Regions from separate parts of the Homo sapiens genome. Here all the other regions are reported to be linked to region 1. Evidence: microRNA targets listed by miRTarBase, many of them from high-throughput screens and not tested one by one. Region 1 holds a microRNA gene; each other region holds the end of a gene's coding sequence.
Evidence for each region. Region 1 holds the annotated microRNA hsa-miR-4693-3p (UGAGAGUGGAAUUCACAGUAUUU, at 1,242-1,264, opposite strand). A microRNA usually pairs through its seed, bases 2 to 8, with sites in the 3' UTR of a target mRNA and lowers its output. Matches are read on the target gene's strand: a 7mer-m8 pairs with bases 2 to 8, a 7mer-A1 pairs with bases 2 to 7 and ends in A, and an 8mer does both.

Region 1 (4,242 bases):
AGGAGTGAAAACAACACTTTATCTCTACATTGGCTTCAGGGAGGACAGTGCCCAAACCACCTCAAGTACAGAATAATTTACTCTCATTTAGAAGATCTCCAGACAGAGCTCGAATGGCTCCCTTGGCAACAAATTTTAGTTTTAACAATCTTTGTAGCTTTATCCTTCCCTCCAGATAATGCCATAACTGTGTACTCTAGATTAAACGTTTTCTCCTTTTCTGCCCACAGTGCTTTTGAAGCCAAACATGATTTCACATATAGTGTTGGGTCATCATTAAGTCACCTTTCAGAAGTCCCTCTAAATTAAGGAGTCCTCATCCTTTCCTTAAATTTTTCATGTGTCCTGACCTATGAGAATCTGTTATACGCATGTTTAATTTCTATGGAATACCTCATCATACAACTTGAAATTCTGATTGACTAGTGGTTTTTTTCCTGCATAAGTGCTACTTCATCTATGCCTCAGTAACAAACAACAACAATCACTTAATGGAAATGGTGGCAGGCAGAATTCTAAGATAGCTGCCAGATTCCTGCCGCCCCTGGTGTGCATTCCTTGATAATCACTCTCCTTTGAGTGCAGGCAGACCTGTGTGTATGATACCACTGCTATGATTACATTGCTCATCAGGCGACTGTGAGCTAGCCAAAATGGAGAATATTCTGGTGGGTCTGACCTAGCCAGGTGAGCCCGTTTCTGAGTCATAGAGATTGAAAGTGTGAGAGGGATTTGATGTGAGGGGGAATTCTCTGTTGCTGGTTTTGAGTATAAAAGGGGCCATATAATAAAGACTTGAGAGTGGTCACTAGTTGCTGAGATCCATCCCTAATTGAAGCTAGCAAGAAACACTTCTACCAACAACTTGAAGGAATTTGGAAAAGAATCCTTCCCTAGTCAAGTCTCTAGAGGGGAATGCAGCTAACTGACACCTTGATTTCAGCCTCGTGAGACCCTGAACAGAGATATCAACCACTCAGTTGCCTGGACCTCTGACAGAAATGAAAGATAATAAATGTCTGTTGTTTTAAGCCACTAAGTTTATGGAAATTTGTTACACAGCAATGGAAAACCAATATAGGCCCCTATCCATGAGTTACATTGTAGTAAACACCTTTCCTACATTATAGATATCTCATCTAACTCCTACAGCAACCCTTGAGGTAATCACTGTGTCCATTGTCAGAGCAAGAAAACTGAAGCTCGGCTTCATAAACAGAAGCAGCAAGGATTGATTCCTTAAATACTGTGAATTCCACTCTCACTTTATTTGAATTTGTGACAGTGAAATTCACAGTATTCTTTAAACATTTTACCCCCAAGCGATGCTCTTTCCTCTGAATTGCTTTGCCTGTCCTAATAATTTTATTTATACAGGCTGATGCTGGTGACTTGGGAATAGTATTTTTATCCAAACCATTTGGCTTCTTATAGGTATGAGCCACTGAGGGAGCTATTTTTTATTTAATTGTGCTTTGGAAAAATCAAACGTAGCCTTGAGTTTTAAAATTATTAAGCTTACACTTTTTCACAAAATAGAAATGGAGTAATATAGCTCTGTCCTTCCGTTTTTTAAAGCCAAAAAATGTAAGAATGGAATGTACTGGCTCACTGCTCCCACGGTGTCCTTACCAGCACAACTTACCCCATCCCTCCCTAGCCCACTCTTGAGGATACTTTCTTGCCACTGTCAGGCTTACTCCTGCCTCCTAGACTGAGGAAAGAAAAGCCTCCTGGTTTGGAGCTCATAATCAAGTCAGCCTTGCTGCAGGGCTCATTTTAAGCCAGTATCCTGGACCAGGTGAGTCTTTTTATTCATCTCTGCTTTGTATCCAAGTTCCATTTATCAGGTTACTAACTGGCCCCATCATGCATTCCTTCAGTAATTACTTTATTTTTAGCACTGCCAAGAAAGCAAGTCTTTTCCTACAAAAACACAGGATTTCCAGTGGGGTTAAATAAATGTGCCTATGTTCTCACTTGAGACAGCAAAAAGGGAAGGAGCGAAAATTGTGGAAAGAATTGAAGACAGAGGGTAGAGGGTAGGGTGCCAAGTGTGGGGGAAAACTGAATTATGAATATTAAGGAAAAATGAAAAATAATATTAAACTGAAATGGAGAGAAATAATATAAGTGAGAATAGAAAAACATAAAACAACCTTCCCCAAAACAAAGGATAAAGAAAAAAGAATTCAGGGGAAGCTGTAAATATCTAAGACATAGCAGCAAGGGCCTGGGAATACTTATAGTGTTTGAAGTTCTGAGCTTTATTTCGCTGCAGTGAGGATCTTAAAGATGCTTAAACATATGAATAAGCAACAAAGTAATGTGACCGTTCAGCTACAGGAAAGGGGTCCCAATCCAGGATCCAGACCCCAAGAGAAGGTTCTTGGATCTCTCACAAGAAAGAGTTCAGGGCGAGTCCATAGAGTAAAGTGAAAGCAAGTTTCTTAAGAAAGTAAAGAAATAAAAGAATGGCTACTCCATAGACTGCATCCACGACGGCTGCTGGTTGCCCATTTTTATGGTTATTTCTTGATGATATGCTAAACAAGGGATGGATTATTGATGCCCTCCCTTTTTAGGCCATATAGGGTAACTTGCCATGGCATTTGTAAACTGTCATGACGCTGGTGGGAGTGTAGCAGTGAGGACGACCAGAGGACACTTTCATTGCCATCTTGGTTTTGGTGGGTTTTAGCCATCTCCTTTACTGCAATCTGTTTTATCAGCAAGGTCTTTATGACCTTTATCTTGTGCCGACCTCCTATCTCATCCTGTGACTTAGAATGCCTTAACCATCTGGGAATGCAACCCAGTAGGTTTCAACCATATTTAACCAGCTTCTATTCAAGATGGAGTTGCTCTGGTTCAAACGCCTCTGACAGTTTTCAGAGATTATTGTCAATTCAGGAGTCAAATCATTAGAGACTTTACAAAAAATCAGATGAGGGTAATAAAACTTATGATAATATAATATTGACATTTTAACACTAGGTATAAATATTGTTCTAAGCATTTTAACTAATTTAATCCTGAAAAAAAAAGTCCTCTATAGTTATTACTATTTTTATGCCTATTTTACAGATAAGGAAGCTGAAGCTTTGAGAATTTAATTTGCTCAAGGGGAGGCCAGGACAAGAAATAATGAAGAGTCCGATGTGGCAGGAATGTAGGAAACAAGTCAATGATGGAAGATAAATATGGAGACGTGATGAAGGCAAAATTCTGAAGGGTCTTAGAGCCCATTATAAGACGTTTGGTTTTTATGGTTAGTGAGAAGGAAAACCATTGGGGGTGGTTGGGCAGAAGAGTAATATGACTTGACTTATATTAAAAAAATAATTTGGTGGCTAGGTTGAGAATATATGTAAGCAGGAGTGGGGTTGGGGGTGAGTGGCTGGGGCTGTTTATATCAAGGGTGGATCCAGGCAGACCAGGCAGGAAGGCATTGCAATAATCCAAGCAAAGGGAGAGGGTGTCTTGGTCACTAAACTGATGCCAGATATGAATTAGCTATACTAGAAGATAGTGAGAGATGGTACATAAAATCATACACATTTATTGCAACTGTATGTATTCCTTAATTACAATTTACTACATATAGACTAATCTAGATGAGCGCTTTCTAGGTACTCTTTAGTAAATTCATAGTCAACTCATAATAATGAATATGGTGGTCATTTTTTACAAAGCAACTTCCTGTGCATTACTTTGAAAACAATCCAATAAGGTATATGTGGCAAATACTACTCCTGCAATTTAACATGAAAAAAACAGACTTGGTGAACTTAGAGCTTGGCTTACCAGTATAATATCAACTATACGTCCTTTCTCCACTGAACTCAACTTCCTAACTAAGCTTGTGCCAAGGGGCATTTCAAGATAAAAATGAAAAAAGAGGCTACATCTTCCAGGATAAAGACTTTGGTCTGAAAGTAACATGTGCATTAAAAGTTCAACTTTGATAAAAGTTACAAATCACTATACAGAAGACCTATTAAATGAAATAGACCCCAAATAAACACAACAAAGGCTTTTCTTTTGTAAGATGATTTTAAGTTAAAATACTGAAGAACCTTTTGAGAAAGTGCTCAGAACATTTCCTCTGCTCACTGCAGCTGCAAGAATCAGCACAAACATCCACATCCTATTAGCTTTGATTTCCAACTCATGGAAACCCAACCTGTCGGTTTTTCTCTTTTTTCCCAATACATAGTGACATTAACTCAGCCTTTTCTT
Region 2 (4,242 bases), not on the chromosome of region 1:
GATCTGCCTGCCTCAGCCTCCCAAAGTACTGGGATTACAGGCATGAGTCAGCATGCCCGGCCAAGCCAACTGTGTTTTGATTGTAATTGACCCATCATACAATGTAAATGGCAAAACGCCTAGAGGATCAAGCACGAGATATATCGGCAGTTCCAATTCAGGTCACTAGCTGGATACAGATGATGCCTCCACCTCTCCTGCTTATCCACATGCCCTGCACTGATCACTGCCTACTAGTTACATTGTCAAGGAAGTTTGTTGAATCCTGCCCTCACGCGTACCTTTGCTAATTTCTTTCAGAGCCACTATCATCCAGAGATCCTGCAGTTCTTCTACGCAAATAAAATTCTGTAAGCGCAGAGCAGCAGGGAAATGGTTCTGTATGAGTGCATTGCTGAGCCATCATGTTCCCCTGTTTTATCTCACTGGATGCCTCTTCTCACTGCTTGCCTCTTGGGATTGTAATGGGAAAGAGGGTGCTGGGAGAGCAATCAAAGGCAAAAATAATACATGGAATTGTATGATTTTATCTAAAGTAAAATTCTAGACTGCTTTCACTTATTTCATTTCCTCCCCATACAAATTTGATGAGCAGGTACACACTTTCTTTAAAACATTCCAAGTGTATATAGATTCAGTGCTTATTTCTCAGCTTTTTCTTTCTTAAGTTCATCTCTGTCACCTAGCTTTTATTTTTAATACTCAATTTCTGAGGCTTAGGAGAATACTTGTTACCTTAAGCGTTTTTTTGTTTTTTTGTTGTTGTTGTTTTGTTTTTTTTTAGTGTATTTGCTATTGATACTTTGCTATTGATACCTTTACTTGCCAAGATTTATTTAAAGTTGGCCAAGATACCAAGAAGGTGGCTTGCAGGGGCATCTTTGGCTTCTCATAATTTTAAACAGTCATTGCTTTCAAGATCATGCTAAACAAGAATTAATAGAGAGAAAAAAATCTATAAAGCATGTGTTGAAAATCCTCAGGCTCATGATAACTTACGGGATAACAATAGTAGGTAACACCGAGTGCTTACAATTCAGTGGGCACGGTCAAAGTGCTTTTTGTAAGTTCTATTTAATACTTGCGACAACCCTGAGATAGTAAGTATTATTATTGTTCTCATTTTATAGATGAGAAAGCTAACACATAGGGAAATTAGGTAACTTTCCCCAGATAACTCAGTAAACAGTGGAGCTGGAATTCAAACATGTACGGTCTGACTTCTTGAGCCCATACTCAATAATCATGCCATCCTGCCTTTCCATGGAATAACTGATGGATGGTTAGAAATGTTAAAAACAAAGCAAATGCAAACATCTCTGCTTCTGCTCCTCTACTAAGCCCAGTTAACTTTTGATTTTATATGTACTAAGTATACATTTTTATTAATTTATGTGAGCTGAGTGTTTTTATTAATTACTTTTTGGCTATTAATGTCAATTATTTTGGTGATCAATCCTAGTTATCCAAGGAGTCACATCACTCGTAAAAATTACAAGAAAAATCTCTAAGTCCCTCTCACCCTCCCTCTAACCAGATTGCATCCCAAGCTTCTATAGAAACTCTGGTACCACCCCTGAATTCAGTATCCAGGCCACACCCGGAGCGTTTTGTTCAAGACAATTTAAAACACGGGGGATTATAAAAGCTATAGCTGGATCTTAAGTGGCATTCTGAGAATGAGGAACTCAATTTTCTGCTGTAGCTCCCAGGGACAGGGTGGTGTGACACAGATGCGGGGATGAGGAGAGACCTAGGCGAGATGAGGATGTGGGAGATGGCAGACAGAGTGGCAAGTGCCAGGCAGGAATGGATTTTCTTCCTTCCTGTTCTGAATCTGAAGAACATGACAGCAAGAGATTTTAGGAGGGACACAGGCTCACGAGCAAATGGGTGGTTCTGAGCTGTAAGCCCCCTGCCCCTCCCTAGCACCCACTCCCCGGATGCTGGCCTCTTTGAAATTTTGTTGCAAGGTTGGTTTAAACTTGATGCAGTTCCATTAAGTGATCAGTGAGTGGTCTGAGAAATGGCTGCATGTGGCTGGCATTCAAAAAGGTGGGGATAGGGTGAGATGGGTGGGGTTACGTGCTCTGGAGTAGAAAAACCTATGCAGTTAATGTCCCTCTGTCGGTTAAAATTGTGGAAGATGCGGTTGGATTATTTGACTTTAAGATTCAATGGTAGGCTTTTATTTTGGTGGCCCCCAATGAGTCATGCCTCCTGATACTCATGTCTTTATTTAGTCCCTTCTGTTTGAATCTGGGCTGCCTTTGTGACTTGCTTTAATCAGGAGATTGTGATAAATGGCACTGTGCCGGGCATAGAAACCCTGGCAGTTTCCTCGTTTGAATTGTGGGGGAAGCCAGCTGCCACATAAGGAGTTGAACTACCAGGAACAAATGAGAGTGCCTGAGATCACCATGTGAAGGAGAACGGAGACACCCAACCCACAGCAGAGTCTGAGGCCCGGACACATGACACAAGTTGTCCCTTCCAGCCAGACCCGAGCTGTTGAAGCTACTCCAGCTGACACCATACGGAAAAGAGACGAGCGTCTCCATCAAGCCTGTGTCAGTTGCAGAAGCATGAACAAAGAATCAAATGATTGTTGTTTTAAGTCATTAACCTTTGGGATAATTTGTCACACTGCAATAAGTAACCAGAGAAGATTCCTTATTATTAACTGTTGTCTTGGCTAATTTTGTTTTGCTCTTCATAAGTCCTCTTTGAGTTTAAATTCTATTTCCAGAAATTTATGTTATCATGAAATTTGGTGGCAAGAGCAAGGGACTATGTTTTTTTGTTTGTTTGTTTCTGTTTCTCACCATACCTACCACAGAGCCTGGCCATGTGATTAAGGAACATTTGCTGAATGACTAAATGATTCCAAATTGTAGAGGGAATAAAGTCCAATGTCCAGTCTGCCATTTCAGGCTTTCAACCTTCGTTTTCTTCTGTTACTCTCTTTGCTTCAGACAAGTTTGGGTCCTTTCTCTTCTCTCAACATGTCTTGTTCTCCTATACCCCCTCACCTTTGCTCAGTCTGCTATTTCTGTGTTGAGTCCCCTCCCTGCTCACCTGTACACACCCACCTGGAATCACATGCACACACACACACACACATTTCACGTGTATCTCTTATCTGTACTCCAATGCCTAGGTCAAAGTCCTGATCCCCCCAATCAGGGGAGAGCTCAAGTCTCTGAATTCCCAGAACATTCTAGCAATATTATACCACTTATATCTTATCTGAAAAGTTTTTTTTTGTATATGGCTTTATGTTTTTTTTTTTATCCTGTTAGATTGAAACTACAGAAGGCAGGGCTGTATCTTGTACATCATTGTATCTCCCCGGTGACTGCAAAAGTACTCTGTAAATGAATGTTGATTAGGGGGAAAAATGTCAGAAAGTCATCTGAAGCTGTCATTCCTTACTGGGAGGAGCCCATTTTGACAAATGAGGGTCACCAATTTCATTCCTTATAACCAATGTACAGGTTACTTTTATGCTTGTGCATTTCAAGTTTCCCCTTCCCCACGTTTATCTGAATGCCAACCCAAAGGTAATGTTTTGACATTTCTTAATTTTGAACATTAATTTTGAACCTTATTGAGCAGTTGAATGAAAGAAAGAAAAAAGGAATGTTCAAGTGCCCCGACCCTCATGCTAAGTGCCCAGGGTAGAGCTTTGCTTGGTCCCTGTGTCTCTGGTGCTCATGAGATAGGTCTTTCTTTCTTTATTTTTATTTTTGAGATGGAGCCTCACTCTGTCACCCAGGCTGGAGTGCAATGACACGATCTCGGCTCACTGCAACCTCCACCTCCTGGGTTCAAGCGATTCTCCTGTCTCAGCCTCCTGAGTAGCTGGGATTACAGGTGCCTGCCACCATGGCTGGCTAATTTTTGTGTTTTTAGTAGAGACGGGGTTTCACCATGTTGGCCAGGCTGGTCTCAAACTCCTGACCTCAAGTGATCTGCTCACCTTGGTCTCCCAAAGTGCTGGGATTACAGGCGTGAGCCACCGCTCCTGGCTGAGATAGGTCTTTCTTAAAGGGGAGAGGGAAGTGGTGGAGAGAGAGGAGAGAAAATGACAAAGGAGGAGGCTGAGAATCTAACAGGTGTGACCAATTCTGCTACTGAATGAGAGCAGAAGCCTGTGAACTTCCAGTTAATAGACCACTTAATTGGGGGAACGCTTCACACGTTATAAAAAAGCACTAGAATGTTTTGAAAGCGAGAAAC
Region 3 (4,242 bases), not on the chromosome of region 1:
GGCCTGAGGGGGGCCCACTGCCCTTTGCAGCTGTTTGTTCCCAAAGGTTGGTAATAAGGGGCCACTGGGGAAGCCTGGGTCAGTATATGGTTGACATTCTTACTCTCAACACCTTGGCTCCCCCAGATCAGGGCCATTGGTGACAATGCTTGTTTCCCCAGGGTTCCTTCCTGACAGGCATCTGGGGTTGGTGTAGGGATGGAGCTGCTTTCCCCATTTCTACAGAGAGCCATGCCCCTGAAACATCACATGCCTTTGCACAGGCCACCCCCCTCTTCAGGCTGCTGCAGGAGGCCAGGCCCAGGCCAGAGACCCCAGGCAGCCTGAGCTCTTGGATGTGGTCAGCTCTCCAGGAGCAAGTCCTGTGTGGCAAAACTGCCTCCTACGGCGGCTCTGAAGCAGAGCCCTGGGACGGACCCCATGCTGTCCCCAACAGCTGGGGTGGCACTCTGCCCTGGGCACCCATGACCCTCTGCTGTCTCTCCCTGTTCAGCTGTTGGCCGGCCCTGCTACCTGACGCGCCAGAAGCACCCAGCCCTGCCCAGCAACCGGCCCCAGCAGCAGGTCCTGGTGCTGGCGGAGCCCAGGCGCAAGCCATCTACCTTCTGGCACAGCATCAGCCGGCTGGCACCCTTCCGCAAGTGAACTGGTCCCTGCCTGACAGCACCTGCTGGGCCTTCCTGCCAGTGGCCCCCAGTTTTTCTTCCCCGAGGCCCACTCGGCCTGGCCTTCCTCTGCCTGCAAGTGAGCAGGGATGGGCTGGGGAGTTGCTTGTGCCACCAAGACGTGCCAGGTCTGTACTCCTGTTGTCTTTTTCCCTGCTCCTGGTGCCCTGAAGAGACCAGCAAGGGGGCAGACCCCGCACTCGCCACACCGCCGCTGCAGCTTGGGCCCCATCCGCCCTCTGGACCTGTGTAGGGCCTCACTGCTGGAGCGGGGAAACCGCAGCTCAGCCCAGGCCCAGCTGGGGAGAAGGCGCTACCTGCGTGGGACCCTCTTCTCTGGAAACCTAATCCTCCTTTCATTTCCTCTGGGCAGGACTCTCTGGCCTTCTGTGGCCTGCAATGCCAGGCCATGTGCCCCTCTGCCCTCTAGTTCTCCAAGTCCCCAGCCCGGCCAGTGGTGCCAGGCAGCTTGCCACTTGGGAGGGCAGAAGCCAGGAATTCCACACCCTTGTGTTGCGCCCGGAGCCCGCCCTTCGCCTCCCAGCCCCTCAAGACACCGCTGGCTGCTGGACACCCTCTTCACTTGTGTGTGTGTGTGTAGCGGAAAAGGACAAGACGGTGCAGTCGGCTGCATACTCCCAGTCGGGAGTGTGGTCAGTCTGCCTGCTGCTGTGCGGTAGCTCCAGAACCACCTCGTTCCTGGTTTTGTTTGGATTTTGGCATCTTGTTTTTCTAACAACAAACAATGGAGAAAAAGAATTGATTCTTAGTGACACAGAAGATTGCCTTACGCTCGTGAGCGTGAGAAGCCATAAGAGAGAGACCGAATTCTGTGGCTCAGCACACAGGACTGACCCACAGCCCAGGCAGCGGGTGTGTGGAGATGGCGCCCTGTCCTGCCAAGGGGCGCCAGGAGCAGAGCCAGGGCCTGGCGAGCTGGCGTGGAGCCCACAGGATTCAGCAGCATGGACAGTCACTCTTGCACTATTCCTTCTCCAAGCCAGAAACCACATTTAATTTCATAAATAAATTTATGAAAAGTAACCTGGCTGCTAGCCCGTTTTCTGTGGGTGTGCGTGCATTTTCCTGTGGCCAGCAGCCTCTAAAGGTGGGGTGGGGGCTCACCTGTCGCAGATCACACCCTCGGGGATTTAGTGGAGATGATAGGCTGAGGCGGGGCTGGCTGCAGTTGTTCGCCTAAGGCGAGCAGGGCCAGGCCATGCTGGTTGCTGATGGGGAATACAGGTAGCTCTGCCCTCCCTTGCACTCAAGACCCAGAAACCAGTGCTTCCCTGTGTTTGTTTGACTGGAGCTGGCCCACGTGAGTTTGGTGGGTGAGTAGTCAGTAATCTTTCTGGGCCTCAGCATCCCTGGTGAAATGAGGAAGAACGTGTCTTCCCAGGGTCTTCTGACCCTGGCCACAGAAGCCAGAAGGGGAGCATGGTGCTGCTTCCCTCCCTGTCCCACTTGGGAAAATGGTCCCCTGCAACCTGCTGCCTCCACCACACTCCAGCACTGCCAAGGTCACTGGGGCTGGACGCCATGGTGGTCTTCTTCTCAAAACCCCTGGCAATCTCCCAACTTGAGAGAAGCCCCAGCACCTCCCAGTCAGGCCATGCTACCTCTAGACAAAAACCCATATGGAGAAATCATGAAAACCACAATATGCAACACAAGTCAATCTTTATTGAAAACTGCAGTATTAATACATAACAATTCTTGTTACAATAAACGTGCTTTTGAGATTTTTAAATCTGAGCTCATCTCATCAGATTGCATAAAAAATTAAAATAGTATCAATTGACACCTAACTGAACTGGCTCAGGATGGAAATTCCATTCCTTGGCATGGATACGTAAGTTCAATGCAGAGGTGAGGGATGCCTTTAACACTGGAAGACAATGCTGACTTAGCTTAAAAAAAGTACCGAGAGAACGGTGTAAAAAACGGTATTTAAAAATCATTTTTAAAAAAACAAAAAGGAACCGTTTCTTCTTTAGTTACAATCCATGAGGCTCTCTAGGGCCTCTCCGTGTGGCCAGCACAGCAACCCTGCTAGGAGCACAAACGGCTGGCCTGAGATCTGGCCCAGCTGCCTTGCCCACTGGTCTGCACAGGGACTCATGGGCACAGCCTGTGGTGAGGAGGAGACACCTGTCATGCCAGTCCTGGGAGCACACCACCCTTCTGCAGGCCCGGGGGGGGGTCCCTACACAGACGCCGCTCATCCTCTGTCTCCCCTTCCCAAGTGACTTCACTTCAGTCCTGTGGACCAAGATAAGGCTATCCCCACAGGCTCTCTCTTCTTCAAATAATGAGTAGGAAAAAGAGACAAACTTTCTGAAACATGCAGTTTCCGACCCAAATAGGCCACATACCCCAACTTCTGTGTTACTTGGTCAGTTGAGCCCCTGGAGCCCTCAGGACCTACTGATAAAGCATGTCCTCTGCAGTATACTCAAGAGTCTGCTGCCCTTCAGAAAGCCAGAGGGAACACTCACAAATGCAGAGGTACTAGAGGGGAGAAATACGTGCTCTGCCTTCCCCCAGGCCAACCACACTCTGCTTTAGAGACCCTCTCAGAAAGCACCAGAGAGGAGGACCAGACGCTGCCACCCACCTCAAGCCACACCCCTGCCACCTGCTGCTGCGCCCAATGGAGGTCCTGTCCTGTCCGGGCAACAGCCAAACTGGCGACAATGGACACATCCAACAGTCAGCTGTCGGATAAGGTGAAGGTGGCCCAACTGCTCAGAGTAACACTGTTCTCAAATGTTTAAAAAGGACAGGTGAAGTCTGGGTCTCCTTTTTTAAAGCAGACACCAATACTTACATAACTAGTACATGTTGGCCTTTCACCAGCACTCACTGGCACTCACAGGTGCCTTACATACCTTACGGGGGCCAACACTGACAGGTATTAGTACGTCGCAAGTTGCTGTAATAATGTATTTCCTCTCGTTACTGTTGTGTCCCCCAAGACACATGCAAATTATTTCCTAGACCTCATTCATCACAGCCAGATGATGCCACCAGAAAGAGCAAGGTACTGTATGCCCAGCTGGGGAAGGGCAAGACACTCACTGACCAGGTGCCCACCCCAAGGCTCAGGACCACCCCCATTGCCTGTGAACACATTTGCATAGCACTCAAGAAGGTTTCCCAGAATAGCGACAGGTAGGCCTACAAACCACACCAAGAAGAACGTTCTTAACAGATGGCTCACGAGAGACATAAAAGGTTCTGGAAGTGCCTTCAGGCCCATTACCATGACTGGCCCTGACTCTGGCCCTCACAGAGCGGCAAGTTCATGGGTCACTGGCTCACACTAAATGCTCAGCCGCCAGCACAGATCCAAACAAGACCTCCATGAGCAGAGAAACTGCAGCGGCTGAACACACTCCCCAAGCCTCAGGGGAGAAGGTGTAGAACAAATATTTTTTAAATAGCCATCATGATGTCCATGTTTACATGAACTAGGTCCTTTGCTTACCTGCTGTCTCAACTTCTAAAAGAATAGTAATTCAGCTGAAGGACTCCCAAATTAGGAATGTCAAACACACAAAAAGCAAATTTC

Region 2: the mRNA of MRO is a reported target of hsa-miR-4693-3p. The part of its 3' UTR that is shown has no 7-base or 8-base seed match.
Region 3: the mRNA of ARHGEF4 is a reported target of hsa-miR-4693-3p. The part of its 3' UTR that is shown has no 7-base or 8-base seed match.

The regions. Positions count from the first base shown.
Region 1 is chr11:103,846,973-103,851,214 of GRCh38, reverse strand. It overlaps MIR4693 (microRNA 4693), which reads right to left and starts at 1,309; the gene lies at 1,235-1,309. LOC102723862 (a long non-coding RNA gene) reads left to right here and starts at 1,664. Exons shown (of 4, transcript XR_001748346.2): 1 at 1,664-1,801; 2 at 3,088-3,271.
Region 2 is chr18:50,795,449-50,799,690 of GRCh38, reverse strand. MRO (maestro) reads left to right here. Exons shown (of 8, transcript NM_031939.6): 8 at 301-4,242. The coding sequence ends at 354. Among named protein-coding and RNA genes, the nearest start is that of MRO, 22 kb to the left of the region's middle.
Region 3 is chr2:131,045,545-131,049,786 of GRCh38, forward strand. It overlaps ARHGEF4 (Rho guanine nucleotide exchange factor 4), which reads left to right. Exons shown (of 14, transcript NM_001367493.1): 14 at 494-1,709. The coding sequence ends at 645. It overlaps FAM168B (family with sequence similarity 168 member B), which reads right to left. Exons shown (of 7, transcript NM_001009993.4): 7 at 2,332-4,242. Among named protein-coding and RNA genes, the nearest start is that of SMIM39, 13 kb to the left of the region's middle.